Linked DNA regions of Homo sapiens: region 1 is linked to region 2. The links come from fine-mapping of genetic effects on gene expression. A gene starts in region 2. The other region holds a variant in brackets. All regions are shown on one strand. Distances are between the middles of the regions. Region 1 overlaps MAVS (mitochondrial antiviral signaling protein). Region 2 holds the start of MAVS (mitochondrial antiviral signaling protein).

What was found. PIP is the estimated chance that this variant, and not a neighbour inherited with it, causes the effect.
Region 1: its variant is fine-mapped to the expression of MAVS in whole blood (TOPMed, PIP above 0.99).

The regions. Positions count from the first base shown.
Region 1 is chr20:3,866,524-3,882,110 of GRCh38, reverse strand. MAVS (mitochondrial antiviral signaling protein) reads right to left here. Exons shown (of 7, transcript NM_020746.5): 7 at 5,993-15,587. Among named protein-coding and RNA genes, the nearest start is that of PANK2-AS1, 15 kb to the left of the region's middle. The variant T/C (reference allele first, on the strand shown) is at 12,349.
Region 2 is chr20:3,837,774-3,854,133 of GRCh38, reverse strand. It overlaps MAVS (mitochondrial antiviral signaling protein), which reads right to left and starts at 7,300. Exons shown (of 7, transcript NM_020746.5): 1 at 7,231-7,300. RefSeq lists enhancers at 2,789-3,290, 9,245-9,384, 10,373-10,517, silencers at 7,024-7,403, 7,834-7,883 and a cis regulatory region at 10,440-10,450.

The DNA.
Region 1 (15,587 bases), 28 kb before region 2:
TGCAAGCCCCGCCACCCAGGTTCACGCCATTCTCCTGCCTCAGCCTCCCGAGTAGCTGGGACTACAGGCGCCTGCCACCACGCCCGGCTAACTTTTTTTTGTATATTTAGTAGAGACGGGGTTTCACTGTGTTAGCCAGGATGGTCTTGATCTCCTGACCTCGTGATCCGCCCGCCTCGGCCTCCCAAAGTGCTGGGATTACAGGCGTGAGCCACCATGCCTGGCCCTTTTTTTTTTTTTTTTGAGACAGGGTCTGGCTCAGTCACCCAAGGTGGAGTGCAGTGACGCAATCATGGCTCACTACAACCTCCACCTCCCCGGCTCAAGCAGTCCTCCCACCTCAGCCACTCAAGTAGCTGGGACTGCAGGTCCACACCACTATACCTGGCTAATTTTGTATTTTTTGAAGAGGCAGGGTTTTACAACGTTGCCCAAGCTGGTCTGAAACTCCTGAGCTCAAGTGATCCGCCCCCCTCAGCCTCCTAAAGTGCTGGGATTATGGTGTGAGCCACCTTGCCCAGCCTTATGTCACTCTCAGTGGCATTTCTCGTACTTCCTGGTCCTAAGATTCTTGGTGTACACGTTGTATAATCCCAACTAGATATGAGAGCTATCAGATTAAGACTTTGCATCTTTACATCCCCCAGTACCTTTCAGAGTGTGAGTGCACACACACCATTTGCTAAGGAATGATTGCAGTGACAATACCAAGTTTAGGATCCCTTAAAATACCTATATCTTGGGCAGAGGTTGCATTGAGCTGAGATCATGCCGCTACACTCAGCCTGGGTGACAGAGCGAGACTCCATCTTCAAAAAAAAAAACAGTCCGGGTGTGGTGGCTCACGTCTGTAATCCCAGCACATTGGTAGGCCAAGGTGGGTGGATCACAAGGTCAGGAGTTCAAGACCAGCCTGGCCAACTTGGTGAAACCCTGTCTCTACTAAAAATACGAAAAAAAATTAGCCGGGCATGGCGGCGGGGCACCTGTAATCCCAGCTACTCAGGAGGCTGAGGCAGAGAATTGCTTGAACCTGGGAGACGGAGGTTGCAGTGAGCCGAGATCACGCTACTGCACTCCAGCCTGGGCGATAGAGCGAGATTCTGTCTCAAAAAAAAAACTACATCTTCATAGTGGACATATTTGACATCTACCCAACTTACAACCATTCCTCCTATAGATCATAGATTAGGCCCCAACAGCCATGTTTGTACCTCCTAAACCCCACCACCTTGGAATAGAGACTTACTTCTCAAAGTGTGATGCCACATTCCTCGTGGGGTCAAAGAAGCAGAAAAAATTGGTTTGCGGCCGGGCGCAGTGGCTCACGCCTGTAATCCCAGCACTTTGGGAAGCCGAGGCAGACAGATCACCTGAGGTCAGGAGTTCGAAACCAGCCTGGCCAACATGGCAAAACCCCATCTCTACTAAAAATACAAAAATTAGCTGGGTATGGTGGAGGGAGCTACTCGGGAGGCTGAGGCAGGAGAATTGCCTGAACCCAGGAGGCCAAGGTTGAAATGAGCCGAGATCGCACCGCTGCACTCCAGCCTGGGTGACAGTGCAAAACTGCATCTCAAAAAAAAAAAAAAGTAGGTTTGCACAGAGCTCCAAGAGTGAACAGATGAACAGAACAGAAAAAGCACTTTGCCAGCTCTCCCAGTCCTGCCTGTTTCTATCCATTCCCTAGGCTGAATACATTCCTGTCTGTGTTCCATATGTCTCCCCCCGCAACATTAAAATAAGTTTATTAAGTCTCCCGCCCCATATTTTAATCTAGCTTACATTGTCTTCTGTTACTTGGAACCAAGAGTCTTTTTTTTTTTTTTTGAGACGGAGTCTTGCTCTTTCACCCAAACTGGAGTGCAGTGGCACAATCTCGGCTCAATACAAGCTCCGCCTCCTGGGTTCATGCCATTCTCCTGCCTCAGCCTCCTGAGTAGCTGGGACTACAGGCACCCGCCACCATGCCCAGCTAATTTTTGTTTGTTTGTTTGTTTTTAGTAGAGACAGGGTTTCACCGTGTTAGCCAGGATGGTCTCGATCTCCTGACCTTGTGATCCACCCGCCTCGGCCTCCCAAAGTGCTGAGATTACAGGCGTGAGCCACCGTGCCCAGCTGGAACCAAGAGTCTTAATTAAACAATCATGATGGAGACCAAGCCCACATTTTTCAGGTCACCTAATCCTGGCCTCTCCATGATCCAGTAACCTGAGTTACAGCTTTCCTACCATAAGGACTTAGAGCTAATTTCTTAAAGCCTGTAGTGGAGGCTGAGGCGAGAGGATTGATTGACACAAGGAGTTTGAGTCCAGCCTAGGCAACATACCAAGACCCAGTCTCTTAAGTAAATTTTTTAAAAAATCAATTTAGTTTCCAAATGAGATCAACATATTAACATATTATATTTGATTGCTTTGCCTTTTTTTTTTTTTTTTGAGGTGGAGTTTCACTCTTGTTGCTCAGGCCGAAGTACAATGGCACAATCTCAGCTCACCACAACTTCCGCCTCCCAGGTTCAAGCGATTCTTCTGCCTCAGCCTCCTGAGTAGCTGAGATTACAGGCATGCACCACCACACCTGGCTAATTTTGTATTTTTATTACAGATGGGTTTCTCCATGTTGGCCAGGCTGATCTCGAACTCCCGACCTCAGGTGATCCGCCTGCCTCAGCCTCCCAAAGTGCTGGGATTACAGGCATGAGCCACCGCACCTGGCCCAGGTTTGATTTCTTTAAAAGAATTCTTCACAGGTGCTATTTACCTTTTTAAACATTATTTTTCTATTTTTGTTTTGTTTTTGAGACGGGGTCTCACCCTGTCACCCAAGCAAGAGTGCAGTGGTGCAGTCACAGCTTACTGCAGCCTCAAACCCCTGGGTTCAAGCAATTCTCCCACTTCAGCCTCCCAAGTACCTGGAGGTACAGGTGTGCACCACCACGCCCAGCTAATTTTTTTTTTTTTTTTTTTTTTAGAGACAAGGGTCTCACTATGTTGCCCAGGCTGGTCTCAAACTCCTGGCCTCAAGCGATCCTCCCACCTTGGCCTCCCAAAGTGGTTCCCACTTATAAGTGAAAACATTACAGGTGTGAGCCACCATGTCTCACTATTTACTTTTTATTCATCTCATCAAGAGAAGAGAAATTCATAACATTAACTACTTACGTTAGGGGCTACAGCCCCTACCGTAATTTTCTAATCAGGTAGTTTCTTCTATGCTTGGTTAACTGGAATTTGTGTGTGTGTGTGTGTGTGTGTGTGTGTGTGTGTGTGTGACAGAGTCTCACTCTGTCACCCAGGCTGGAGTGCAGTGACACGACCTCAGCTCACCGCAACTTCCTCCTCCCAGGTTCAAGCGATTCTCCTGCCCCGGCTTCCCGAGTAGCTGGGATTACGGCTGTGCACCACGACACCCAGCTACTTTTCTTTTGTATTTTTAGTAGAGATGGGGTTTCAACATGTTGGCCAGTCTAGTCTCGAAATCCTGACCTCAAGTGATCCACCTGCCTGGCCTCCCAAAGTGCTGGGATTATAGGTGTGAGCCACCGCACCCAGCCTAACTGGAATATTTCTATAAAGAATCTTCCCTCATCAACTCTTTGTTATCCTGAAGTACCTCAACCTCAGCCTCCAGAGGAGCTGGAACTACTCAAATAGAAAAGGCAGGATCAATTCTTTCCCTTTACTGACCAGTTTTCAGAATGAGTTGGTTTCCTGGGGCATCCTCTAGAGGTCAACAATGAATTCTTTTTAGTATTATCATGAACTGGTGGCTTTTTTTTTTTTTTTTTGAGACGGTCTCACTCTGTTGCCCAGGCTGGAGTGCAGTGGTGCGATCTCGGCTCACTGCAACCTCCGCCTTCTGGGTTCAAGCGATTCTCCTGCCTCAGCCTCCTGAGTAACTGGGACTACAGGCAAGTGCCACCACGCCCAGCTAATTTTTTCTATTTTAGCAGAGAGGAGGTTTCACCATGTTGCCCAGGGTGGTCTCGAACTCCTGAGCTCATAGAATCCACCCACTTTGGCTTCTCAAAGTGCTGGGATTACAGGCGTGCGCCACCATGCCTGGTGTTTTTTTTTTTTTTTTTTTTTTTTTTGAGACGGAGTCTCACACTGTTGCCGGGGCTGGTGTGCACTGGCGTGATCTCGGCTCGCCACAACCTCCACCTCCCGGGTTCAAGCGATTCTCCTTCCTCAGCCCCCTGAGTAGCTGGGACTACAGGCGCGTGCCACCACGTCTAGCTTATTTTTGTTTTGTTTTGTTTTGTTTTTTTGAGGCAGAGTCTCTGTCGCCCAGGCTGGAGTGCAGTGACGCTATGTCGGCTCACTGCAAGCTCCGCCTCCCAGGTTCACGCCATTCTCCTGCCTCAGCCTCCCGAGTAGCTGGGACTACAGGCTACCTGCCACTATGCCTGGCTAATTTTTTTTTTTTTTTTTTTTTTTTTTTTAGTAGAGTCGGGGTTTCACCGTGTTAGCCAGGATGGTCTCAATCTCCTGACCTGGTGATCCGCCCACCTCAGCCTCCTAAAGTGCTGGGATTACAGGCATGAGCCACCGCACCCGGACTGTATTTTTTTTTTTAGTAGAGACGGGGTTTCACTATGTTGGCCAGGCTGGTCTCAAACTCCTGACCTCGTGATCCACCTGCCTTGGCCTCCCAAAGCACTGGGATTACAGGCGTGAGCCACCGCGCCTGGCCAACTCATGGATTTTAAAAGCCTATTTGATGAGTTTCAGTCCACTGGAGTCAGGTCTTTTTTTTTTTTTTTTTGGAAGTGCTGTGATCGTGACTCACTGCAACCTCTGCCTCCCAGGTTCAAGCGATTCTCCTGCCTCAGCCTCCCGAGTAGCTGGGACTACAGGCGCGTACCACCATGGCCAGCTAATTTTTTTGTATTTTTAGTAGAGACGGGGTTTCCCCATGTTGGCCAGGATGGTGTCGATCTCCTGACATAATCCACCTGCCCCGGCCTCCCAAAGTGCTGGGATTACAGGCATGAGCCACCACCCAGCCCAAAGATTCTATATTATATATACAGTTTTCCACTTTTTTTTTCCTCTTAGCAAAACATCATGGAGTTCACTCCATAGCAGTATAGAGATACTCATTTCTATTCACAGCTGCATAGCACTCCAATGTAGATATACCTTGGTTTATTGCCAATGTTCTGTAGATGGACATTGTCTGAGTTATTTCCAGTCTTTTGCTATTTACACAGTGGGCTATAATGACTAGCCTTGGACATATATCTTTATTTTTGCCAATGTTATCTTTGGCTTAGACTACTAGAAATGGAATTGCTGGGTCAAAAAACACATGCATATGTCATTTTGTAGGACAGAATCAAATTCCCCTCCTGAAGAGGCAGCTGCTATAATGGTGCTTCCAGTGGTTCCTACTTCTGGGTAAATTGCCCCTTGACTGCAATTTACAGAAGTGATGGGAGTGGATGCAGAGGCTCCTGCCTGTAATCCTAGCACTTTGGGAGGCTGAGCCAGGAGGATCACTTGAGCCCAGCAGTCTGAGACTAACATAGGCAACACAGTGAGACCGCATCTCTACTAAAAATCATGAAAGTTAGCCAGGCATGGTAGCGTGTGCCTCTGGTCCCAGCAACTCAGGAGGCTGAGGTGGGAGGATTGCTTGAGCCCAGGAGTTTGAGGCTGCAGTGAGACATTCTACTCCACTCTACTCCAACCTGGGCGATAGAGCATGCCCTTGTCTTAAAAAAAAAAAAAAAAAAAAAAAACTGCTGGGATGTCACTTTCAAGATTAAGTACCAAAGGACTGTGACTTCTGTTTTGCTCTCATACATTCTCTGTCTGAGAGCTGGGAGCTTGTCTTTAAGTAGAAACCCACCCATCCCCAGGGAGAAGGCAGGAGGGAAAAGGAGGAGAGGTCACAGACAAGCCCCCTGACTCTGTTGATCTTCACTGCAGTAGCTTCTCATTACAAGCAGGCATCTGGCCATTGTAGACCATTATAACTGTAGTTCTAGAAGTAATAATAGCAGATTTATTGTACAGAAGTGTCCACGGGCTCACAATTCTAAGGACATCATCATGACAGCAAGTAGGAAAAAAAATTAAAGTAATTCTTTCACCAATTACCAGTTTATCTCTTCTCCAATTCCTTTGGATACGCCTCCTGCAAGAAGCCGATTTCCAGCTGTATGTGATAATGAAAGGGTTTTTCTTTCTTATGTTAAATACAAGCGAAGTGATTAACTGGAAGATAGCGTCTGATTGCGAGGAAATCAGTGATTCAGATGGTGTGGGAATGGCACCTGGGGATGGGGGAGGCAGGACGGAGATGGAGGAAGCTGGTGCAGCCTAGCCTGCCTTGTGCCAAGGACACCCAAGGGCAGAGGGACTGAGCTCTGGGGGAGGACAGATTTGACATAACTGGTCCAGCCTCACAGTTTACAGGTCCTGGAGGGTGAGGAAAGTGGGAGCTGGCTGCGGATGCAGGACAAGAACCCAGGGCTTCCCTTCATTTTGCCTGCCCTGCCACTTCCTCCCGCCACTTCCACCCTTCCTACCCCTCCACCTCCCTTGTGCCTTTCACTGCCTTTTACAGCATTTACATTACACTTCAGTAAAAAGTTGTGGTTTTGGCTGGTTTTTTTTTTTTTTAAATAAAAACAGCACTGAAGAAGTAGAAGGAAGATATTCAGGGTTTTTATTTTTATTTTTTGAGTCTGGGTCTCGCTCTGTCACCCAGGCTGGAGTACAGTGGTGAGATCATAGCTTACTGTAGCCTCGACCTCCCGGGCTCAAAGATCCTCACACCTCAGCCTTCCAAGTAGTTGGGACTACAGGCATATATCATCATGCCTGGCTAAATTAACTATTTTATTTTAAGAGATGTGGTCTAGCTATGTTACCCAGGCTGGTCTCGAACTCCTGGCTTCTAGCAATCCTCCCACCTCAGTCTCCTGAATCACTGGGATTACAGGCTGGGGCCATCATGCCCAGCTCTAGGTTTTTAAAATGTAGGCAAGGAGGTCAGCATTTACACAAAAGCAGGGTTTGATCTTAGGAAGCTTAATAAAGAGAGGGGTCTAATCAAGGTTTCCTGTAGGATCTGGGCTTTAAGTTAGGCCTTAAAGAACGAAGAATGTTTGTGGGTGTAGTAAGCAATGACTTGGAGCAGAGCCCTCTAGCCATTGGGCTCACCCTCACAGGCAGGCGCCACTGACCCTAGGGGGGTGTAGGCAGCTGGAGGAAGTACTGTGTGTCCCCCATTCCAGCGATGGTGGCCCCTCTCAGAGTCAATACCCTTCCTTCCAAGAGACTGAACATACAACTGGACAATGGCCAGGCCACATATGACAATAGACTCTGGCCAGAAACCCATGACCAGCCTGGGAAGCCAAGGAAGCCAAACCACAGCCTCAGCAGCAATCGGACCCAGAACAGTCTGAACTTAGTGGCTGCCAGCTTCTTCCCAATCCCCAGCCACCACACCCCCTCTTCCAACTCCAGACCAACCAGAGAAAGCCAAATATACCCCCCCAACCAACCAAAGATGCCCCTCCAGTTAGTCCGCTCTGTCCCCATGCCAACAATCTCCAATCACAGCACACCCAGAGCCTTCCCTTTTTTTCCACTATAACATTTCACAGTCCCTGCCTGCCTTTGACCCCTGCCAAATACAAGCAATCATGGCTGACTCCTTTGCAAACTTTGACCAAATGGCCTCTCTGCTCTTGTTTAGGTGGTTTTTATTTCCACATCTCCAACAGGGAGTCTGGAAACAAACTGACAATACTCGTGAAATCAACACCCAGATGAGGTAGACCAGCACTCCAGGATGCCCCTCCCCAGTATCCCTCCCCTGTTAACTGTTCCCCTGGCTTCTAACACCATGGATCAGTTTTGCTTATTTCTGTACTTTTTGTAGGAAGAGAATCATACAATGAATTCTCTCTTGATGATGAGGACTCTGACCTCTTTTGCTTGACCTCATGTCTGTGAAATTTATCCATGTTGCTGTGCATAGCGATATTTTCATTCATATTCGTTGCTGTGCAGTAGTATTCGACCCTGTGACTTCACTGTAGCTTCAACTGTGGATGGACATTTGGGTTGGTGGATGGACATTTGGGTTGTTTCAGGTTTGGGGCTACAGTCAGCGTGTGGTTAGAAACATTCTTGCCAATGTCTCGGTGGACATAGCTTTCTGTGGTGTACATACCCAGGAGTGGAACTGCTGGATCAGTTTATACGTATGTTCGGCTTTTGGTAGATACTGCCAGTTTTCCAACAGGGTCACACCAGCTTGGTCCATTCAGGTTACAATGAAACACCTTAGCCTGGGTAATTTGTAAACAACAAAAAATTATTTCTCACAGTTCTAGAGGCTGGGAAGTCCAAGATCAAGGTGCCAGCAGATCCAGTGTCCAGGGCGGGCTCTCTGCTTCAGAGATACGGTGCCTTCTCACTGCATCCACACATGGTAGAAGGGACAGAAGGGCTCCCTCAAGCCTGTTTTATAAGGTGCTAACCCCATTCATGATCTCCACCCTCATGACCTAACCACCTCCCACAGGCCCCACATCTTTATTATTTTTTTGAGATGGAGTCTCGCTCTGTCACCCAGGCTGGAGTGCAGTGGCACGATCTCGGCTCACTGAAATCTCCACCTACTGGGTTCAAGCTATTCTCCTGTCTCAGCCTCCCGAGTGGCTGAAATTACAGATGTACGCCATCACACCTGGCTAATTTTTGTATTTTTAGTACAGATGGGGTTTCACCATGTTGGCCAGGCTGATCTCAGACTCCTGGCTTCAAGTGATCTGCCCCCTGCCAGCATCCCAAAGTGCTGGGATTACAGTCATGAGCCACCATACCCAGCCCCAAAGGCCCCACCTCTTAATGCCATTGCTTTGGGGGTTAGGATTCAACATATGAATTCAAAGGGTACACCTACATTCACAACACAGCACTGACTTAGATTCCCTGCAAAACCCATGAGAGTTTCATTTCCTCCATATTTTCATCAGCATTTCATCTTGTCAGATTTACTCTCTATAGGTTCTAAGTATTATTCCCCCTCTGCTGATTTACTTATTATAAACAGTACATAACTGATCAGATAAACACTTGTCCCTTTGCCACCCCTAATGCCTGCCCCCACTTCATATTCCAGGAACACTCCATTAAACCACCCCCTACTGTACTGGTGGGTGGTGGGAGGGGGCTCATCGGGTGGGGTCTTTGCCGTATTATTCTGTGTCACTGAGGCCTATCACAGTGCTCTGCACATGTAGGTGCAAATATCTGTTGTATGATTACATAAAAGAATGATGTGAAAGCCTATTTGTCTGTACCACAATCATGAACGTCCCCAACCACTTGAAGGCACTCATAGTGTCTTAATCATCTTAGGCCTTCGATCTGGCATAGGTAACTCCTTTAATAAACAATGTCTGCTAAACCAAATGGCTTCCTGAGGCCTGGCATTTTAGGCTGTGTCCCCTGCCCCACCTCGCCCAGCCTGGGGCATTGAGCCTGGCTGGGCACACACGTGATAGTTGTAATCATATTGTCATAACATCCCTGAGACTACATTAATTACATATTGAGTGTTATAGTACTATTATAGCAGGTGGCAGATGTTGGCACACTGGGCAGAGATGTGTTGGTGTGAAAAACCTCTATGTACTTTAAAGACAGGGTCTCCCTCTGTTGCCTAGGCTGAAGTGCAGTGGTGCCATCATAGCTCACTGTAACTTCAAACTCCTGTGCTCAAGTGATCCTCCCACCTCAGCCTCCTGAGTAGCTGGAACTTGAGGCACATACCACCACACCCAGCTAATTTTTAAATTTTTTGTAGAGATAGGGTCTAGCTGTTACCTACACTGGTTTTGAACTCCTGGCCTCAAGCAGTCCTTCTGCCTTGGTCTCCCAAAGTGCTGGGATTATAGGTATGATCCACCACCTCCAGCCAAAATCTCACTTTAAGTGGGGTCCCTAACTCCAGACATGTGATAAGCTGTGGTTCACAGGCATAAAGAACATCCAGCCTGGGGCCCCGGGGTCAGAGTTTTCCCTCGCATTGTCCCCTGGGTCCTTCATCCCTCCTAATCTTGCAAACCAGCTGTCAATTGGGTTGAGATGGTATCTCTTTCATAGGGTCATTATGAGGATTAAATGACTTAATATATGTAAAGCACTTAGCTTAATGCCTGGCAGACAGTAAGGTATGGAGTAAGTTGTAACCCTTATTATTATTGCTGTTGCTGTTAGCAACAGAGTGAGGAATGCTAGGAGTGACCATGCCCAGCACCGAATGAGGCCTTCATAGCCTTGGGCTAAAAGAAAAAGAGCAGAAAGGTGAACACAGGGGAAGGCCTCAATTTCAACACAGATGCATTAGACCAAGGACTCTGAACTCACTTTCCCTGGAGGTGGGGGTGCTATCAGCTGCTTAATGGAGCATCATGGAAAATGTGGGACTCAAGGCCTGAAGGACTCCATTCCTAAGAGATGGGAGCAGGAGACATGCTACGGAGTTTGAATCTTGCCTAGCACAGGGATTTCTGCCTGCTGGAAGGGCTCTGTCAGGGCCTAGTGGAAGCCCCTGCCTCAGTGGGGCAAACTGCCACTGGACACACCCATCATTCATCATCACCTCTCTGGGACAGTAGTAGCAGCCAGGCACCTCCAAAGAGCTTGACAACAGAGGAACCCGCTTCGGCCCCTCCTCTGAAGACAGGATCCTGCGCTACTCCAACTCTGAACTGGTTCAAGGTGAGAGACGTCATCCACAGAGGCCACAAAACCAAGAGGTGGATGCCTCATTGTTACTTCATGCTGTCTGGGAGCAAAGAGAGGGCCTTAGGCACAAAATCCTCCAGACCCGCATCTGCCCCTTGGCTTTCTCAACCCTTCACTCTCCAACTTCTATAAATAACCTGTACAGTGGCCAGGCACCGTGGTTCACACCTGTAATCCCAGCATTTTGGGAGGCCAAGGCGGGCGGATCACTTGAGGTCAGGAGTTCGAGACCAGCCTGGCCAACATGGTGAAACCCCATCTCTAACAAAAATACGAAAATTAGCCAGGTGTGGTGGCGGGCATCTGTAATCCCAGCTACTTGAGAGGCTGAAGCAGGAGAATCACTTGAACCTGGGAGGCGGAGGTTGCAGTGAGCCGAAGTTGCACCACTGCACTCCAGCCTGGGCAACAGAGCAACACTCTGTCTCAAAAGAAAAGAACCTCTGCAGAATGAGGGGAAGCAGGGAAGCAGGCAGGGGTGAACAAGATGGCCATGAATTGATAATTACTGAAGTTGGGTGATGGGCTCATGGGGATTTGTTATTCTACTCTCTCTACTTTTTTGTGTTTGAAAGTTCATAATAAATAATGTTGCTCAAAGGAAGCTATTAATAGTTTGAGGCCAGGCAGGGTAAAGAGCATCTCCTAGATTTTTTTTTTTTTTTTTTTTTTTTTTTTTTTTTTTTTTTTTTAGAGATAGGGTCTTGCTTTGTTGCCCAGGCTTGTCTCAAACTCCTGGCTTCAAGGGATCCTCCCACCTCGGCTTCCCAAAATGCTGGGATTACAGGCACAAGCCACCACATCCAACCTCCCTCATATTTGACTAAGAAGTCTCATAAATCTGAGAACACCTAGCAAGGAATTAAGGCGAGGGTGTGGCACTGTTCTGGCTTCAGTCTATCACCAGGCAGAGTCCACGCATTCTTCCCAGGGAGAAAGAAGCAGTGACAGCTCTTGGGCTTTGAGGGAAATGATTCAGCGGGAGAAAGAAGGTGGAGAGGGGCTAATATGCAGATACCATTGCTGCAGGTGGCTCTGCCCCTAAGCACTGAGGAGGGCACTGGTCCCTCTGGCCCCACCCAGCCTTCACCCCAAGGTGAAGTACGCTTTCTCAGGTCCCCAAGGATGGGTGGCCAGGTCCCCCACTGGGAGTGGAGGTCTCACTCCCTTCCTTGGGTTCTGACCTCCACATTATCTGGCTGTGAGGGTGACCTGCCTGGCTTTCCCCACCAAGTGCAGCTCCCCGCAGCTGAAAGCCACACTCTCAACACAGGACTCCTGAGATCTGACACTGGCCAATTCACACCCTGCTTGAAGCTGGCATTTGAGAGGCCTTCAGGTTGACAACAGCAGCAACAAGTTTGCTGTTCAAAGTAGGCCAAGTCACGGCTTTGAGCGGCATCATTTGAAAAGTGCTGGGATCAGCCAGGCGCAGTGGCTCACTCCTGTATCCCAGCACTTTGGGAAGCCAACGCAGGTGGAGCACTTGAGGTCAGGAGTTCAAGAACAGCCTGGCCAACATGGAGAAACCCCGTCTCTACTAAAAATACGAAAATTAGTCGGG[T/C]GTGGTGGCAGGCCTCTGTAATCCCAGCTACTCGGGAGGCTGAGGCAGGAGAATTGCTTGAACCCGGGAGGCGGAGGTTGCAGTGAGCTGAGATCATGCCACTACACTCCAGCCTGGGCAACGGAGTAAGACTGTCTCAAAAAAAGAAAAAGGAAAAAAAAAAGTGGTGGGGTTTGGGTGCAGTGTCTCACATCTGTAATCCCAGCACTTTGGGAGGCTAAGGCAAGATCTCATGAGGCCAACCTGGGCAACATAACAGCATGACCTCATCTCTATAAAAAATTTAATTTGGCTGGGCGCGGTGGCTCACGCCTGTAATCCCAGCACTTTGGGAGGCCGAGGCGGGCGGATCACAAGGTCAGGAGATCGAGACCATCCTGGCTAACACAGTGAAACCCCGTCTCTACTAAAAGTGCAAAAAAATTAGCCAGGCGTGGTGGCAGGCGCCTGTAGTCCCAGCTACTCTGGAGGCTGAGGCGGGAGAATGGCCTGAACCCAGGAGGTGGAGGTCGCAGTGAGCTGAGATCGCGCCACTGCACTCCAGCCTGGGTGACAGAGCAAGACTCCATCTCAAAAAAAAAAAAGAAAAAAAAATTTAATTAGCCAGGCATGGTGACAGGTACCTGAAGTCCTAGTTACTCAGAAGGCTGAGGCAGGAGGATCGCTTAAGCCCGGGAGTTTAAGGATACAGTGAGTTATGATTGCACCACTTCGCTCCAGGCTGGGTGATTCTCTAAAAAAAAGAAAAAAGAAAAAGATGGGAGGATGGGAGGCGGGGCTAGGGGACTGGGAAGGTCCCTCAACCCTTTCTACATGCCTTACCCAGGGTATCTCCCATCATGGCTGGTTACTGTGCTAAAATTATAATTTTTTTTCTTTGAGACAGAGTATCACTCGGTCACCCAGGCTGGAGTGCAGTGGTGCGATCTCAGCTCACTACAACCTCCGCCTCCTGGCGGGCTCAAGTGACTTATCTTCCCACCTCAGCCTCCCATGTAGCTGGGACTATAGATGGGCGCCGCCATGCCCAGTTACTTTTTGTATTTTTTACCTAGGCTGGTAGTGTGCTAACATTCTACCACTTGGGCAACAGTCTTCGGGGCTACATACTGCCTTTTTTTTTTTTTTTGAAACAGAATACCACTCTGTCGCCCAGGCTGGAGCGCAGTGGCACAATCTCGGCTCACTGCAACCTCCGCATCCTGGGTTCATGGAATTCTCGTGCCTCAGCCTCCTGAATAGCTGGGATTACAGACGTCTGCCACTACACCTGGCTAATTTTCTTATTTTTGTAGAGACGGGGTTTCACCCTGTTGGCCAGGCTGGTCTTGAACTCCAGACCTCAGGCGATCTGCCCACCTTGGCCTCCCAAAGTGCTGGGATTACAGGCGTGAGCCACTGCGCTCGGCCCATGTTGCCTTTTTGAGATACTTTTTTCAAAGCTACCCTGGAACGGTAATACAATAAAACTAGTACCTGTGCATAAATTGTTAACTGACCTGCCCAGCATGGGTACCTAACTGGGGTTTAGGGTAGGGGGACAGAGGGCTTTTTAAGATTGGTGGTGGGGGATGGGGATTAATACAGACAGCTCGGGTAGGGTCCACTCCTGGTTCCAGGGTGCAGGTTGCTGGACTTGGAGCATGGGATGAAGAGATGTTCAGAGATAGAGATCATTAGGTTGCTGAACTCCCCTAGGGCAGTGGAGTGAAAAAGCTGTAGCAGCCAAGGCAGGGTGTAGATCCCTGGAGGCTGACGGCTTGGGGTGGGGCCACAGTGAGCCCAGCCCCTGATGGCTCTAGTTCTTGTCCCTTGCAGAGCTCAGAAATGGAGGTGGCTCCTGTGCCTTGTCCAGCAATGGTTCCCTGAAAAGAACCCATAAGGATACCCCCAATCCACCCCAATGTGTTTCTGGTGTTATTGTAGATAATCTCCCCAACAGTGGGTGAGCTTGGGGTGAGGGAACCTGGCTGCTGGGAGTGGAAACGCCCTATATCCTCCATCCTGTACAGCTGCCCAGTGGACATACCTCTCTCCCCAGCAATTTCTCAAGGCACAAGATAAAGTAAGGGGCAAATACAAAGATAAAGCTGTGAGGCAGGAGGGTCTGAGTCTGCCTCTAAAGGAGTAGCCAAGACTCCTGTTTCTCTGCATTTTTCTTTTTCTTGAGACAGGGTCTCGCTCTCTCACCCAGGTTGGAGTGCAGTGGCACGATCCTAGCTCACTGCAGCTTCAAGCTTCTGGGCTCAAGTGATCCTCCCACCTCAGCCTCCCAAGTAGCTAAGACGACAGGTGCACCACCACGCCTGGCTAATTTTTTAAACTTTTTTGTAGAGATGGGGTCCCTGTTGCCCAGCATGCCTGGACCCTCAACACTTAATAGTGATAATAACATATATCCAACCCTTGGTAAATGCCAGGACTCATCCTAAGACCTACATCGATAAACTCCTTTAATCTTCACAACACTGGGAAATATATATATATACTTATCCTCCTTTTACAGGTGAGAAAACTAAGGGACAGACAGATAAATCCCTTGCCCAAGGTCACAGAGCTGGTGAGAGGCAGGTTGGGACGCAGGCCTAGGCTGCCTGTGCTGCAGAGCTGCACCCTTGACCACTGTGCACTCTGCCTCTCATGCCCTCAGCTCTACCAGGTTGGGCAGGAGAGAGATGGGAGAAGCAGTGGCCACTTGCTCTGGGCCAGGCACTTGGCAAACACCTGTAGGTTCAATCTCAGAAGAACCCAGTGAAGAATGAGCCAGATACTCACTGTCCACGTGGAGAAGCAAGACCAGAAGTCTGACATCTGCCAAAGCCACACAGCCCCGGAAGTGAGGGAGCTGAAATCCAAACCTCTGCCTGAGCTCTGCCCACCAGGTGTCTCCTCCCCAGCCCATGTAGGGAGCTGAAGAGAATGGAGACCAGAGGGGAGGGAAAGAGGAGGCTGGAGAGGAGCTCCACAGGTCTTCCTCAGGCCTGACAGCTGCCCCTGGCTTCCCTGAGGTCCACAGGAACCTCCAGACCTTCCCAGGATTGCCCAGCAGGGGAGGGGGCCCAGTGGGGCAGGAACTCAAGGCAGTTGGGCTCCTGGAGAGCAGCCACCCTGCCGCTCCTGCCTGCCTCAATGCAACGGTCTCAGGCTGGGCTGCCAGGATGGGAGGCAGGTCTTGTGGAGTCGCCCACACACCACATACCTGCCCTGAGGCCTTCAGGGACCAATGCAACAGGAGAGGC
Region 2 (16,360 bases):
TTTTGTTTTATTTTGTTTTTAAGAGATGGGGTCTCGGGCTGGGCACAGTGGTTCACGCCTATAATCCCAGCACTTTGGGAGGCCAATTTGGGGGATTAACTGAGGTCGGGAGTTGGAGACCAGACTGACCAACATGGAGAAAATCCCGTCTCTACTAAAAATACAAAAAAAAAAAAAAAATAGCTGGGCATGGTGGCGCATGCCTGTAATCCCAGCTACTCGGGAGGTTGAGGCAGGAGAATTGCTTGAACCTGGGGGCAGAGGTTGCGGTGAGCCAAGATTGCACCATTGCACTCCAGCCTGGGCAACAAGAGCGAAACTCTGTCTCAAAAACAAACAAACAAACAGATGGGGTCTCTGTCACCCAAGTTGGGTGCAGTGGTGCAATAATAGTTCACTGCAGCCTCGAACTCGTGGGCTCAAGCAATCCTCCCGCCTCAGCATCCCCGGTAGCTGGAACTACAAACCTGCGCCACTATGCCCAGCTAATTTTTTTATTTTTTCTAGAGACAGGGTCTCATGATGCTGCCCAGGCTGGTCTCAAACGCCTGGCCTCAAGCGATCCCCCTGCCTCCGCCTGTCAAGTAGCTCGGATGACAAGCACCAGCCAATGTGTCCAGCCACCTTTAATTTCTTTTTTTTTTTTTTGAGACGGAGTCTTTCTCTGTCGCCCAGGCTGGAGTGCGGTGGCGCGATCTCGGCTCACTGCAAGCTCCGCCTCTCGGGTTCACGCCATTCTCCTGCCTCAGCCTCCTGAGTAGCTGGGACGACAGGCGCCCGCCACCACGCCCGGCTAATTTTTTTGTATTTTAGTAGAGACGGGGTTTCACGGGGTTAGCCAGGATGGTCTCGATTTACTGACCTCGTGATGCGCCCGCCTCGGCCTCCCAAAGTGCTGGGATTACAGGCGTGAGCCACCGCGCCCGGCCGCCATCTTTAATTTCTGTAAACATCCTATTTTATTACTGCCTGAGTCTCTCCAAAATTCCTGCAGAACCCGGGCGCGGTGGCTCACGCCTGTAACCCCAGCACGTTGGGAGGCCGAGGCGGATGGATCACGAGGTCAGGAGTTCAATACCAACTTGGCCAAGATGGTGAAACCCCGTCTCTACTGAAAATACAAAAAAATTAGCCAAGCATGGTGGCGGGCGCCTGCAGTCCCAGCTATTCAGGAAGCTGAGACAGAGAATTGCTTGAACCCAAGAGGCGGAGGTTGTAGTGAGCCGAGATCACGCCACTGCACTCCAGCCTGGGCGGCAGAGTGAGACTCCGTCTCAAAAAAAAAAAAAAAAAAAAAAATTCTGCAGAATTTGCTAAAAATGAATTGATGACCACCAGCTACTCAAGAAGCTAGGGCAGGAGGATCGCTTGAGCCCAGCTGTTCGAGGCCAGCCTGGGCAACACAGCGAGACCCTGTCTCTAAAAAAATAAAAATAAAAATAATTGAAGACCAAAAAGAATCAGATCCAGAATACCTAGGGCCCATTTCTTCTCTGCAGGTTGGTCAGCACTGGGAAGGTCTGCATGTACCCCTAGCACATGCGGTGGGGGGATCTGTATGTGACCCTAGTTTCTGTGCCTATAAATGTCCTGGCTCCCTTCCTGGCTCTAAGGCCCTCAAGCTGATAGCAAGAGGGCTATACCTAAACGTGCTGCTGCTTTGGGACACACTGAAAAAATAAAAAGTGAACCCCAACATGATAATAATCGGATCATCCCGCTTTAAAGAAGAAACTGAGGTATGCTTGCTAGTTAGTAGAAGAAGAAAGAACTGAGATCTTCAGGTCAGCTTCTTTCCATGACATGGCTGCAGGCCCACCATTAAAGCCTGCTACACATAGGCCGGGCACGGTGGCTCACGCCTGTAATCCCAGCACTTTGGGAGGCCGAGGCGGGTGGATCACGAGGTCAGGAGATCAAGACCATCCTGGCTAACACGGTGAAACCCCGTCTCTACTAAAAATACAAAAAATTAGCCCGGCGTACTGGCGGGTGCCTGTAGTCCCAGCTACTCGGGAGGCTGAGGCAGGAGAATGGCGTGAACCTGGGAGGCGGAGCTTGCAGTGAGCCAAGATTGCGCCACTGCACTCCAGCCTGGGCGACAGAGCCAGATTCCGTCTCGGGGGAAAAAAAAAAAAAAAAAGCCTGCTACACATACATTCTTTTTTTCTTTTTTGAGACAGAGTTCCAGACTCTTGTTGCCCAGGCTGGAGTACAATGGCACAATCTCGGCTCATCGCAACCTCTGCCTTCCGGGTTCAAGTGATTCTTCTGCCTCAGCCTCCTGAGTAGCTGGAATTACAGACATGCACCACCACACCTGGTTAATTTTGTATTTTTAGTAGAGACAGGGTTTCTCCATGTTGGTCAGGCTGGTCTTGAACTCCTGACCTCAGATGATCTGCCTGCCTTGGCCTCCCAAAGCGCTGGGATTACAGGCGTGAGCCACCATGCCCGGCCCACATACATTCTTAAGATAGGAGACTGAGTTCCATGCCTTGAACTCACTGTGTGTCCTGGGCAAGTTATCAGTTTCCAGACTTCCTCACCCTTAAAACGGCTCAGATAGCAGCTTGTTTTGACAGTACGGTAATTCAGCCTTATAAACTTTTTTTTTTTTTTTTTTTTTTGAGACAGAGTCTCCCTGTCGCCCAGGCTGGAGTGCAGTGGTGTGATCTCGGCTCACTGCAGCCTCCATCTCCCACATTCAAGCAATTCTCCTGCCTCAGCCTCCCGAGTAGCTGGGATTACACGTGCCCACCATCATGCCTGGCTAATTTGTTTGTTTGTTGTTGTTGTTGTTTTTGAGAAAGAGTCTCGCTCTGTTGCCCAGGCTGGAGTGCAGTGGCGTAATCTCGGTTCACTGCAACCTCTGCTTCTCGGGTTTAAGCAATTCTCCTACCTCAGCCTCCCGAGTAGCTGGGATTACGGGTACACGCCACCATGCCTGGATAATTTTTATATTTTTAGTAGAGACGGGGTTTTATATGTTTTAATGTTGGCCAGGCCGGTCCTGAACTCCTGACCCCAGGTGATCTGCCTGCCTTGGTCTCCCAAGTTGCTAGGATTACAGGCGCCAGCCAACGCGCCTGGCCAATTTTTGTATTTTTTAGTAGAGACAGGGTTTCACCATGTTGGCCAGGCTGGTCTCGAACTCTTGACCTCAAGTGATCCTCTTGCCTTGGCCTGCACAGTGCTGAGCCACTGTGGCCGGCCTCTAAGCTTAAATTTTTTTTTTTTTTTTTTTTGAGACGGAGTTTCGCTCTGTCACCAAAGCTGGAGTGCTGTGGTGCAATCTCGGCTCACTGCAAGCTCCACCTCCTGGGTTCACACCATTCTCCTGCCTCAGCCTCCCGAGTAGCTGGGACCACAGGCGCCCGCCACCACACCCGGCTAATTTTTTGTATTTTTAGTAGAGATAGGGTTTCACCGTGTTAGCCAGGATGGTCTCAATCTCCTGAACTCGTGATCCGCCTGCCTCGGCCTCCCAAAGTGCTGGGATTACAGGCGTGAGCCACTGCGCCTGGCCTTTTTTTTTTTTTTTGAAATGGAGTTCACTCTTTTTGCCCAGGCTGGAGTACAATGGCGCGATCTCGGCTCACTGCAACCTCTGCCTCCTGGGTTCAAGCGATTCTCCTGCCTCAGCCTCCCAAGTAGCTGGGATTACAGGCATGAGCCACCACGCCCCGCTAATTTTGTATTTTTAGTAGAGACAGGGTTTCACCATGTTCCGGTCTCGAACTCCCGACCTCAGGTGATCCGCTCACCTCGGCCTCCCAAAGTGCTGAGATTTACAGGCGTGAGCCACCGCGCCCAGCAGCTTAAAAAAATTTCTTTTTTTTTTTTTTTTTTTTTTTTTGAGACAGTCTCGCTCCTTCACCCAGGCTGGAGTGCAGTGGTGCAATCTCGGCTCACTGCAAGCTCCGCCTCCCGGGTTCACACCATTCTCCTGCCTCAGCCTCCCAAGTAGCTGGGACTACAGGCGCCTGCTACCACGCTCGGCTAATTTTTTGTATTTTTAGTAGAGACAGGTTTCACCGTGTTAGCCAGGATGGTCTCGATCTCCTGACCTCGTGATCTGCCCGCCTCGGCCTCCCAAAGTGCTGGGATTACAGGCATGAGCCACCGCGCCCAGCCAGCTTAAAAATTTTTAAGTGCCTCAAATATAAGCAATTGCTGCCAGTTGTTTATGTAGGAGTTACCACAATTTGCAGTTATAGATGTATTTGCTCGTTACTTTTCTGCCGCCCCCATCAGGGAGTGCTGCAGGGAATAAAAGAGACAAGGTCTATGCCACATCCAATTTATATTCTAATGGGGTGGGACAAATAACAGATCAGTAAATTAATACCCAAATAAGAGTTCCAGATAGCAATAAAGGCTCTAAAGAAAGTAAAGCAGGTAATGAGACAGAGCCCCTGGAGACAGGCATGCTACTTGAACTAGGGGGTCAAAGAAGCCTTTCTGAACTAGCGTGCAGAACACAGCTGAGCTGTTCTCAGGCTCTGAGAAGATTGGTGTTTTAGGCAGAGAGCATGGTAAATGCAAAAGTCCTAAAACAAGAATGAGCTTGGCATGTTTGAAGAATAGAAAGCAGGTCAGTGTGGTCTAGGTCAAGAAAGCTAGGGATGGCTGGCTGCGTGACTCACGCCTATAATCCCAGCACTTTGGGAGGCCTAGGCGGGTGGATCACCTGAGCTCAGGAGGTTGAGACCAGCCTCGCCAACATGGTGAAACCCTTTCTCTACTAAAAATACAAAAATTAGCATGGTGGTGGGCGCCTGTAATCCCAGCTACTCGGGAGGCTGAGGCAGGAGAATCGCTTGAACCCAGGAGGCAGAGGTTGCAGTGAGCTGAAATCATCCCATTGCACTCCAGCCTGGGTGACAAGATCAAAACTCCATCATAGGAAAAAAAAAAAAAAAAGCAAGCAAGCTAGGGAAAGGGGCAGAGATTGTCAAGGTCAAGGAGGTGGCAGGGGCCACTCATGTAGAGTGCTGTAGGAAAGGACTCTGGGTTTTAGTTGGAGTGAAACAGGGAACCACTGGAAGGTTCCGGCAGGGAAAGAAGAGGATCTGATTTACATTAAAGACTTCTCTGGTGGTTGTGAGGACTTTGGAGGGGCCAGGATGAAAACTGGGAGACCAGTAAGGAGGCCACAGCCCAGGAGACAGGATGACTATGGTCAGGATGGGAACCACAGAGATGGCAGGAGGCAGCCAGATTCCTGGTGTTTTGAGGGTGTAGGAGATAAGGGAGAGAAAAGAAGCATGACTCCTTGGGCACTGGGTGGATGGAAGGTGCCCTTTTACCAGGCCAGAGAAGCCAGGGGAGGAGCAGTGGCTCAGAAGGGACTCCAGAACTCAGTTCGGAACAAGTGAAGTTTGAGATGCTATTGGATTCCAAGTGGGTTGTCAGGGAGGGAAGGAGGCAGGAGAGGACCAAGTGGGCATCAGGCAGGCATGAGACCTCTCTCAGGAGGCAGTGCTGTAGAGCAGACAGCACCTAAAAGCTGTTGGGCCACCAGACCTTCCTCACAGGGGAAGCAGTCCTGTCACTGGCCTCAGAGCCTCACATGCATGAGTTGCTTTGCCAGCCAGCAGGCCCTGCTACATTCCTCGTGGGGCAAGTACTAATGACAGGTCAGGAGAATCAGGAAGGTGAGGCGGGGGTCCTCTGAGCCTTCAAGAAATTAGCAAAGAACAACTCTATGGGAGTTAATAGATCCCTTTCTCGGCCGGGCGCGGTGGCTCACGCCTGGAATCCCAGCACTTTGGGAGGCCGAGGCAGGCAGATCACTTGAGGTCAGGAGTTTGAGACCAGCCTGGCCAACATGGTGAAACCCCGTCTCTACTAAAAATGCAAAAATTAGCCAGGCATGGTGGCACACACCTGTAGTCCCAGCTACTCAGGAGGCTGAGGCAGGAGAATCTCTAGACCCAGGAGGCAGAGGTTGCAGTGAGCCAAGATTGGACCACTGCGCTCCAGCCTGGGCAAGAGAGTGAGACTCCATTTCAAAAAAAAAAAGACCCCTTTCTCCTTCCTTTCTCATGGCATCAGCCAGGTACCAGAAGGCAGTCAGATGAGGCACTCTTCTGCATTCCAGCTTCAGCCACAGATGGAGGGGAAGGGATGATGTGGCCCAAACAAAAGGAAAGGAAGCCCACATTTGTTCACATTTATGGAGGGCCCATTGTAGACAGGCACATCCTAAGGTTCTTTCAGTTAATCCTTCCCCAATCCCGTGACAGGGAAAGTGTTGCCAAGGTGCACAGCTGGCCAGAGGCTAGCACAGGATTTGAACCCAAAACCTGCTGCCTCACTGCAACTGGTCATACACCTTGCAGGGCACAGAGACCCCTGCAGCGAGACCCACACAGCCACCTGCCTTCAAGCCCAAAGAGGACCCAAGGTCACTTGGCGGGAGGGAGGCTGAGGGTGCACTTAGGTGGAAGCAACATTTAGTCCAGACATTAACCCTGCTTTCACATGGCTGCCACAGGTCCCAGGTCGCTGGCTGTCCTCCTAGATATTTTTGAGGCTTCACGGCTTCCATACAGAGAATCCCTTTTTCGTGTTTTTGGTTTGTTTCATGTTTTCTTGGCACTTCCTTCCCAACTGAGAAGGAAGTAGGTGACAGAGTGTTCCCAATACAGCAAAGTTTCCGACCTGACTGTCCAGAGGCTCTGAGTGCATCCCGGAAATAAACACCCACCCTTCCCAAAGGGACAGGCCTCACAGCCTTGGATCGGATTCCTGGGCGCGACCCAGGTCCGCGGAGGGCGGGGAGGCCGTTTTGAGCTGGTGTCGCCGCCGAGAACTGTCCAGACCCAGCGGAGGGCGGCAGCACTCGACCTCTAGGCGCACCCGGTCGAGGCTCGGCCCCACCTTAGCGTCACCCTGGGCCCGCGGGCGGCAGGAGGAGGTCAGCGGCCGCTGCCCGTCCCCTTCTGGCCCTACCTTTCCCCCAGCCTGAGCAGACGCCCAGCGCCACCTACCCCCTTTTCCCCGGATGCTGGATGCGGCGCCTGGAGCCCTCAGTGTTCCCGAAACTCTTGCGACAGGGCCCGCTCTTCCGGATCCCCGCGCGTCCTGTCCCCTCCTGGGCCCCCCGCGCACCCCAGACCCAGGGCGTCCCGGCGGACTCCGTCCTGCCGCTGCAGCCACCTTCCCTAAAGGCGTCCGTGCGTGCTGAGCCGAAAGGACCCAACGCCCGGGAAGCGATCTTACCTCGGGTACCCCCGGCCCTGAGACCTGGCGACCGCCGCCCGGGGCCCAGGACCCTTCCCGCAGCGAGGAGGCGGGGCGGGCAGAGCGCGCGGCCATTGGCCATGTGGAGGGGCGGGGCTACTCGGCCGCGCGTGGTTGGCTGGCGACGCAGGCGGCTGCGCAGCGGGGACGGTCACTGGGCCTTGGTTTGCGGGTCGGGAAGCGCTAGACTGGGCTCGGAGAACCGACCTGATTTTTTGCTGGGGGCGCGCAGTCTCGAGCAACTTCCAGGGGAAGTCCGGTGTCCGGCCAGAAACCAGGCAGGTGGCCGGCCTCGGAGTCATCGGGGGGCTGAGAATTCCATCCCCACGCTTCCCAAGTGAAGCAGCCCCTCCTCCCCCTGGGAACTTTGAGGGGTGAGGGTCTTCGTGTCGTTCTCTCCGGCACCCCCATGGCCTGGCATACAGTTAGTGCCCAATAAACGTTGGGTGCCGCTGAAGTCACAGGGGCAAGGATGCCTATCCTGGAGACGTGCACGCTGGGCCTGTGGGAGTGGGAGCGGGCGGGGGACTGCTGGGTAGGTAGGCGCAAGGCAGGGACGCCAAGGTTGGCTGGCGGGCAGGCTGGGTATGGGTTGGGTGCTGCGTGGGAGAGGCCTCTTACGCCCAAGGGCCTGGGACAGGTACCTCCCGCAGTTCCTGCCATCTGCCTCGCCCTTCCCCTTCTGGGGCAGAGGCCAGCACTTACTGAGCACCTACGATCTTCCAGGCACAGGGTCTTCTATTCTTTTTTTTTTTTTTTTTTTTTGAGACAGAGTCATGCTCTGTCGCCCAGGCTGGAGTACAATGGCGCGATCTCGGCTCACTGCAACCTCCACCTCCTGGGTTCAAGCAATTCTCCTGCCTCAGCCTCCCAAGTAGCTGAGATTACAGGCACATGCCACTGCGCCCGGCTAATTTTTGTATTTTTAGTAGAGACGGAGTTTCACCATGTTGGCCAGGCTGGTCTCAAACTCCTGACCTCAGGTGATCCTCCCACCTCGGCCTCCCAAAGTGCTGGGATTACAGGCGTGAGCCACTACGCCCAGCCTCAAGTGAGGTTTTATTACTGTACTTTATATCCCTGTGAATATTTCACAACCTTCAGCATTTACAAAGTATGCTTAATCACACCTGAACTGTAATAAAACCAGCTCTGCCTAGTTTAGCCAAGAGGGCATAAATGTTGATTAGTTCAAGAATCAATCCTGCCTGCTCCCCACCGGAGCAGCTCTAGCAGCTTCATATCTAATTCTTTCAGGAAGAACATTGAAAGTGTAGGAGCGGGCTTCCAAGTGCAGCTATCACTCCTGTCTTTGCTGGACCTCAAAGAGCATTCAAACAATCCCACTGCCTGACTAGGTGGTTCCCTGCCACCTATCAACAGCTTTTATAAAGATTTAGACAAAGAAGAACACAACAACATGCTTATGGTATTCCTATCAAAAGCTCATGATCTGAAACTAATCATAGGGAAACAGTAAGCAAACCCAAAACGAGAGACATTTGACAGCTGTCCTATCCAATACAATGGCTACTAGCCACATGTAGCTATTTTAATTAAAATTAAATAATACTTAGAAGCCAGTTCCTGAGACCCACGAGCCACATTTCTCTTTTTTTTTTTTTTTTTTTTTTTTGAAACAGAATCTCACTCTTTCACCCAGGCTGGAGTGCAGTGGCCCAATCTCGGCTCACTGCAACCTCCGCCTCCCGGGTTCAAGTGATTCTCCTGCCTCAGCCTCACGAGTAGCTGGGACTACAGGCGCATGTCACCACGCCCGGCCAATTTTTGTATTTTTAGTAGAGACGAGGTTTCACCATATGGGCCAGGCAGGTCTCAAACTCCTGACCTCAAGTGATCCACCCACCTTGGCCTCCCAAAGTGCTGGGATTACAGGCGTGAGCCACTGCACCTGGCCCATGAGCCACATTTCAAATGCTATTTTCATGTAGCTAATGGCTTCATACTCGGTGACACAGAGCATTTCTATTTTTTTTGTTTGTTTTGTTTTGAGACAGAGTTTCACTCTTGTTGTTGAGGTTGGAGTACAATGGCGTGATCTCGGCTCACCACAACCTCTGCCTCCCAGGTTCAAGCGATTCTCCTGCCTCAGCCTCCCGAGTAGCTGGGATTATAGGCATGCACCACCATGCCCAGCTAATTTTGCATTTTTAGTAGACACGGGGTTTCTCCACCTTGGCCAGGTTGGTCTCAAACTCCCGACCTCAGGTGATCTGCCTGCCTCAGCCTCCCAAAGTTCTGGGATTACAGGTGTGAGCCACAGCGTCAGGCCCAAACAGAGCATTTCTATCATCACTGAAAGTTCTATTGGATAGCACTGCTCTGCAGAATAACTCTTCAAAAATTTCAAGGTCAGGAAAAACAAGGAGACTGAGAGACTGCTCCAGAGAAAAGGACACCAAAGTGACATGACAACTGAATGCAATATGGGAACCTGGGTTGGATCCTGAAACAGAAAAAGGACTTCAGGTGAAATCCAAATAAGGCTTTTGGATCAGTTAACAATAATCTAGCTGGGCATGGTGGCTCACGCCTCTAATTCCAGCACTTTGGGACGCCGAGGTGGGTGGATCACCTGAGGTCAGGAGTTTGAAACCAGCCTGGACAACATGGTGAAACCCTGTCTCTACTAAAAATACAAAAATCAGCCAGGCATGGTGGTGGGCACCTGCAATCCCAGCTACTCAGGAGGCTGAGGTAGGAGAATCGCTTGAACCCGGGAGGCAGAGGCGGCAGTGAGCCGAGATCGCACCATTGCACTCCAGCTTGGGCAACAACAGTGAAACTCTGTCTCAAATTAACAACAACAACAACAATCTGTCAGTGTTAGGATCATTGTACTGGGTTATGTAAGATGTAAACATTTGCATTATTTTTGCAACTATGTTGTAAATCTGAAATTATTTCAAAAATATAAAGTAAAATAAATCATCTTTTGACCCTATCTGGCTATTTATATTATCTTTTATTTCTTATTGCATCCCACCCTATTTCATGGGTGTAATTCATTGATCACTGTCCATTTATTAGGAGAAGAGCAAGTCCAGAGAGTGATCTATGCTCTAGGCTGCCCCCAGTGAGGGCCTTGGAGCTGCCCCCTGCCCAGTAAAGTTCAGCACAGACAGGCCCATCTCCAGGCCTCCGAGGGAGGCTGTGACCCACCCATGATGACTCAGCACCCACCAGCTCACGTCACCCCCTGGAGAGCAGAGGTCAGGCGCAAAGACAGTGCCAGAGGGCTCCAAACTCGGTTATGTTCTCCGGTCTGAGCCCTTGAGGGAACTATGACTAAAAAACATAATCCCCTCCTTTATGACTTCATTTTGAATAGTATTTTAAACAGTTATTCTTTATGTTTTATTTATTTATTTTTAAAATAAAACAGACACAGTCTTGCTACATTGCTCTGGTTGGTCTTGAACTCCTGGGCTCAAGCAATCCTTCCATCTAAGCCTCCGAAGTAGCTAGGACCACAGGCACACTCCACTGCACTTAAACAGATATTCTTTATACTATTTTAATTTTTTCATTCTTTCAACTTAATTTACCAAAAATATATACTGTTTACAGCTAATGTGGGGAAAACAGAAATATTTGATGATGAAAACCAAAATCCATATTCATAATGCCACCATCTACAAAAATTAGCCAGTCATGGTGGCACACATCTGTAATCCCAGCTACTCAGGAGACTAAGGCAGGAGAATTGCCTGAACCCAGGAAACGGAGGTTACAGTGAGCCAAGATCATGCCACTGCACTCCAGCCTGGGCGACAGAGTGACTCCATCTCAAAAAAAATACTACTAATAATAATAATGCCACCATCCAGGGGTGACTGCTGGTGACGCTCCAGTGTCTTTTCTAGTATTTTTTTTTTTTCCTACAATACAGAGTCTCCAAGTCCTCTGACTTCCTGGGGTTATCCTTGCCTTGACCAGCCATGTAAGATGGTTCTGGTTCTAGCCATGATGTGGGACGTAATAGGGTCTGGCATGAGCCTGCCTTACCTCTCAGGGGTCTCAGGAGGAGGGGGCTTGGCTCACTTCAGCTCCTGGGTCAGTCGCTGCTACAGCCAGCTCCTCCTCTGGGACTGTGGTTGGCATAGCCCTTTCATCAGGCCTCAGGACACTGTGTGGCTCGTCACCTGCCGCTGACACAATACAGTGTGCTTAATCACATCTGAACTGTAATAAAACCAACTCTGCCTAGTTTAGCCAAGAGGGCATAAATGTTGATTAGTTCAAGAATCAATCCAGCCCTGCCTGGGCTCTTGCGGCTTCATATCTAATTGTTTCAGGAAGAACAATTGAAAGTGTGGGAGCCATAAGATTAGGCACACTTAATTGTATTGCTGCTTGGCAAGGACATGCCTTGAGAGTTAGATATCAGAGTTCCTAAAATTCACAGGCCTCCCCCAACACAGGGGACTTCTCCCTGGTCACGTCCCTCCACGCTCCCAGCTTCTGGTGCCCTGCTTGCTCTCAGCCCCTCTTGCTGTCTCTTGTCCTAGGGCTCCTCTCCCAAAATCAGATATTCAGTGCAGGAAACAGATGTCACCCTAGGTGTTTTGTGCATGGAAGGGTTTTGTTTCTTGAAGCACAGTTTACATTCAGTGAAATATATCAAACTTAAGTGTATGACTTGACTCTTTTTTTTTTTTTTTTTTTTGAGACGGAGTCTCACTCTGTCACCAGGCTGGAGTACAGTGGCATGATCTTGGCTCACTGCAACCTCCAACTCCCTGGTTCAAGCGATTCTCCTGCCCCAGCCTCCTGAGTAGCTGGGATTACAGGCATGCTCCACCACACCCAGCTAATTTTTGTATTTTTAGTAGAGACGGGGTTTCACCATGTTGGCCAGGATGGTCTCGATCTCCTGACCTTGTGATCCACCTGCCTTGGCCTCACAAAGTGCTGGGATTACAGGCGTGAGCCACCGCACCCGGCTCTCCCTTTTTTTTTTTTTTTTTTTTTTTTTGAGATGGAGTCTTGCTCTGTCGCCAGGCTGGAGTGCAGTGGCGTGATCTCAGCTCACTGCAACCTCTGCCTCCTGGGTTCAAAGGATTCTCCTACCACAGCGTCTCGAGTAGCTGGGATTACAGGCACCCACCACCATGCCCGGCTAATTTTTGTGGGTTTTTTTTTTTTTTTTTTTTAGTAGAGACAGGGTTTCACCATGTTAGCCAGGCTGGTCTCAAACTCCTGACCTCAGGTGATCCACCCGCCTCCACCCCCAAAGTGCTGGGATTACAGGCGTGAGGACTTGATTCATTTTTATCCAAGTAAATGGGTGTGACACCAGCATCCAGATCAACATCTAGAATATTTCCATTTCCCCAAAAGTTCCCAAGGCCTGGCATGATGCTCACACCTGTAATCCCAGCATTTTGGCAGATTGAAGCAGGAGAATTGCTTGAGCCCAGGAATCAGAGACCACCCTGGGCAACATGGCAAAACCCTATCTCTATGAAAAGTACAAAAAATTAGCCAGGCATGGTGGCACGCTCCTCTAGTCTCGGCTACCTGGGAGGCTGAGGCGGGAGGATCAATTGAGCCCAGGAGGTCGAGGTGGAGGTTGCAGTGAGCCATGATCGCATCACTGCATCTGAAGCTTCACTTGTTCAGAACTCAGTTCTGGAGTTCCTTCTGAGCTACTGATCCTCCCGCCTCAGCCTCACAAGTAGCTAGGACGACAAGCACATACCACTGGCCTTTTTTTTTTTTTTTTTGAGGCGGCGTCTCGCTCTGTCACCCAGGCTGGAGTGCAGTGGCGCTATCTTGGCTCACTGCATGCTCTGCCTCCCAGGTTTATGCCATTCTCCTGCCTCAGCCTCCCGAGTAGCTGGGACTACAGGCACCTGCCACTATGCCCGGCTAATTTTTTGTATTTTTAGTAGAGATGGGTTTCACCGTGTTAGCCAGGATGGTCTCGATCTCCTGACCTCGTGATCCGCCCGCCTCGGCCTCCCAAAGTACTGGGATTACAGGCATGAGCCACCGCGCCCGGCCACCACTGGCTCTTTTTAAATTTATTTTTTGTAGAGACAGGGTCTTGCTATGTTACACAGGCTGGTCCCAAACTCCTGGGCTCCAGCAGTCCTCCCACTTTGGATTCCCAAAGTGCTGAAACTACAGTTTTGAAGCACATTAGACCTCTTACTGCTTTGACTGCTTTTTTTTTTTTGAGACTCTTTTAGCCCAGGCTGAAGTGCAATGGCACGATCTCATCTAACTGCAACCTCCACCTCCAACCTCCACTTCCTGGGTTCAAGCAATTTTCCTGCCTCAGGCTCTGAGTAGCTGGGATTACAGGTGTGCACCACCACATCCGGCCAATTTTGTATTTTTAGGAGAGACAGGGTTTCACCATGTTGGCCAGGCTGGTCTGAAACTCCTGACCTCAGGCTATCCTCCTGCCTTAGCCTCCCAAAGTGCTGGGATTACAGGCGTGAGTCACCATGCCCGGCCTCTGACTGCTTTTTAACTCACCTTCCCTCAGGGCAGGAACCAGAGCCTATGGTAATACTCAATCATATTTATTTGTTTTTGTTTTTGGCGAGAGTGCAGCGACTGGAGTGCAGTGGGACGACTGTGGCTCACTGCAACCTCCGCCTCCTGGGTTCAAGTAATTCTTGTGTTTCAGCCTCCCAATTAGCTGGGATTACAGGTGTGCGCCACTACACCCAGCTAATTTTTTATTTTTAGTAGAAACGGGGTTTCACCATGTTGGCCAGGCTGGTCTCGAACTCCTGACCTCAGGTGATCTGCCTGCCTTAGCCTCCGAAAGTGTTGGGATTACAGGCGTGAGCCACGGTGCCCAGCCCCTCAATCATATTTGTAAACTCTTCCAGAACACTGAGGGGAAAGATAAATTTCTATTCATTAAAAGCAGTGTAGAAAGTCAGAGTAACTTTTTCTTTTTTTTCTTTTCTCTCTTTCTCTTTCTCCTTCCTTCCTTCTTTTTTTTTTTTTTTTTTTCGAGACAGGGTCTCACTCTGGTTGCCCAGGCTGGAGTGCAGTGGCGTGATCTTGGCTTACTACAGCCTTGACCCCCTGGGCTCAGGTGATTCTTCCACCTCAGCCTCCCAAGTAGCTGGGACTACAGGCTCATGCCACCACACCCAGCTAATTTTTTGTATAGATGGGGTTTCTCCATGTTGCCCAGGCTGGTCTCAAACTCCTGGACTCAAGCAATCCACCTGCCTCAGCCTCCCCAGAGTGCTGGGATTACAGGCGTGAGCCACCATGCCTGGCCCAGCCAGGGTAACTTCTGAACATAGGGTGACTTGCAGCAGGAAACTTGCAGGCCCTACACAGCTGCTTCCTTTCTGTAACTTGTGGCTTATCTCCTCGGAAATTGCAAGCAGTCCTGGGAGTAGCATCCTTGAGAGATTAAGAGATATCTTCTATTGTTTCTCTCTGCTTCTCAGCACAAAGAAAAAGTTACATGGTGATGTTGCAGAGTCCCTGGCCCCAGGGGTTTCCTATAAGCCACCTATTCATTCATTCCTTCATTCATTCCTTAGTTCGTTCAGTATATATTGGGTGCCTGTTATGTGCTAGCCGTTGGGTATAATGTAGAAAACAAAAGAGACACAACTCGTGGAGGTTATAACAAGATGGAAAAAAGAAATGGTAAACTAAATAACACAAAAGAAAGACTATGTAGCGGGGGAACGTTGTTGAAAAAGTTGGTAAAGCTCTATGTGCCTCTTAAGGAAAATGCATAATTCATCTCCAGAAGGATATGTCTTTCTGTGGCCCCCTTCAGAACAGACAGACATCAGTGGGGAAGGAGGTCTTGCCCACGAGTTTCATCGTGTTCCTTGAGTCTGTAATTTCAAAGCGGAGTTGAAAACATGCTTTGAGATGCTAACGGTGGAGCTTCAGGTCTGCATTTTTCTTTCTCTTTTTTTAGTGGGCACAGCTATGATATCAAAAGGTAGGCCTGGAACCAAGCTGATGGGAGAGGGAAGACCTGAACTGGTCAGTATAAGAAGGAAATGAGAAATGAACAGGAATGAAATGGGGCGCGAGTGGTCAGAGAGCAAAGAAGGAAGTGTGGGCAGTGAGTGCCTGATGGCTGCGGAGTTTCTGTTTCAAACGATAAAAAAAAATTTTAGAAATGGACACAACATTGGCCGGGCACGGTGGCTCACACCTGTAATCCCAGCACTTTGGGAGGCTGAGGCGGGTGGATCACCTGAGGTCAGGGGTTCGAGACCAGCCTGGCTAATATGGTGAAACTCCATCTCCACTAAAAATAAAAAAATTAGCCAGGCGTGATGGCAGGCGCCTATAATCCCAGCTACTCGGGAGACTGAGGCAGGAGAATCACTTGAACCCAGGAGGTGGAGGTTGCAGTGAGCCAAGATTGCGCCATTGCACTCCAGCCCGCGTGACAAGAGCGAGACTTTGTCTCAAAAATAAAAAATAAAATAAAAATAATGGACATAACATTGTGAATGTGCTTAATGCCACCAGATTCTACACTTAAAAATGGTTAAATGGTCTTTTTAATGTTAGGTATATTTTACAATAAAAAAGAAAAAAACAACAATTTTCTTTTTTTTTAGGATCGAGTCTTGCTCTTGTCGCCCAGGCTGGAGTGCGGTGGCGCAATTTCGGCTCACTGCAACCTCCGCATCCTGAGTTCAAGCAATTCTCCTGCCTCAGCCTCCCTAGTAGCTGGGATTACAGGCATGCACCACCACGCCTGGCTAATTTTTGTATTTTTAGTAGAGACAGTGTTTCACCATGTTGGCCAGGCTGGTCTCCAACTCCTGACCTCAGGTGATCCACCCGCCTCAGCCTCCCAAAATGCTGGGATTACAGGCGTGAGCCATTGTGCCTGGCCAAAAAAAACCCCACAATTTTTTAATTAAAAAAAATGAAAAGGAATGTAGCCCCAGCTACACAGGAGGATGAGGCCGGAGGATTGCTTGAGCTGAAGAGTTCCAGCCTGGGCAAAAGAGAGAGATCCCATCTCTCCAAAAAAAGAAAAGAAAAGAAAAAAGCTCTTTTTGGCTGGGTGCAGAGACTCACCCCTGTAATCCCAGCACTTTGGGAGGCCGAGGCAGGCAGATTA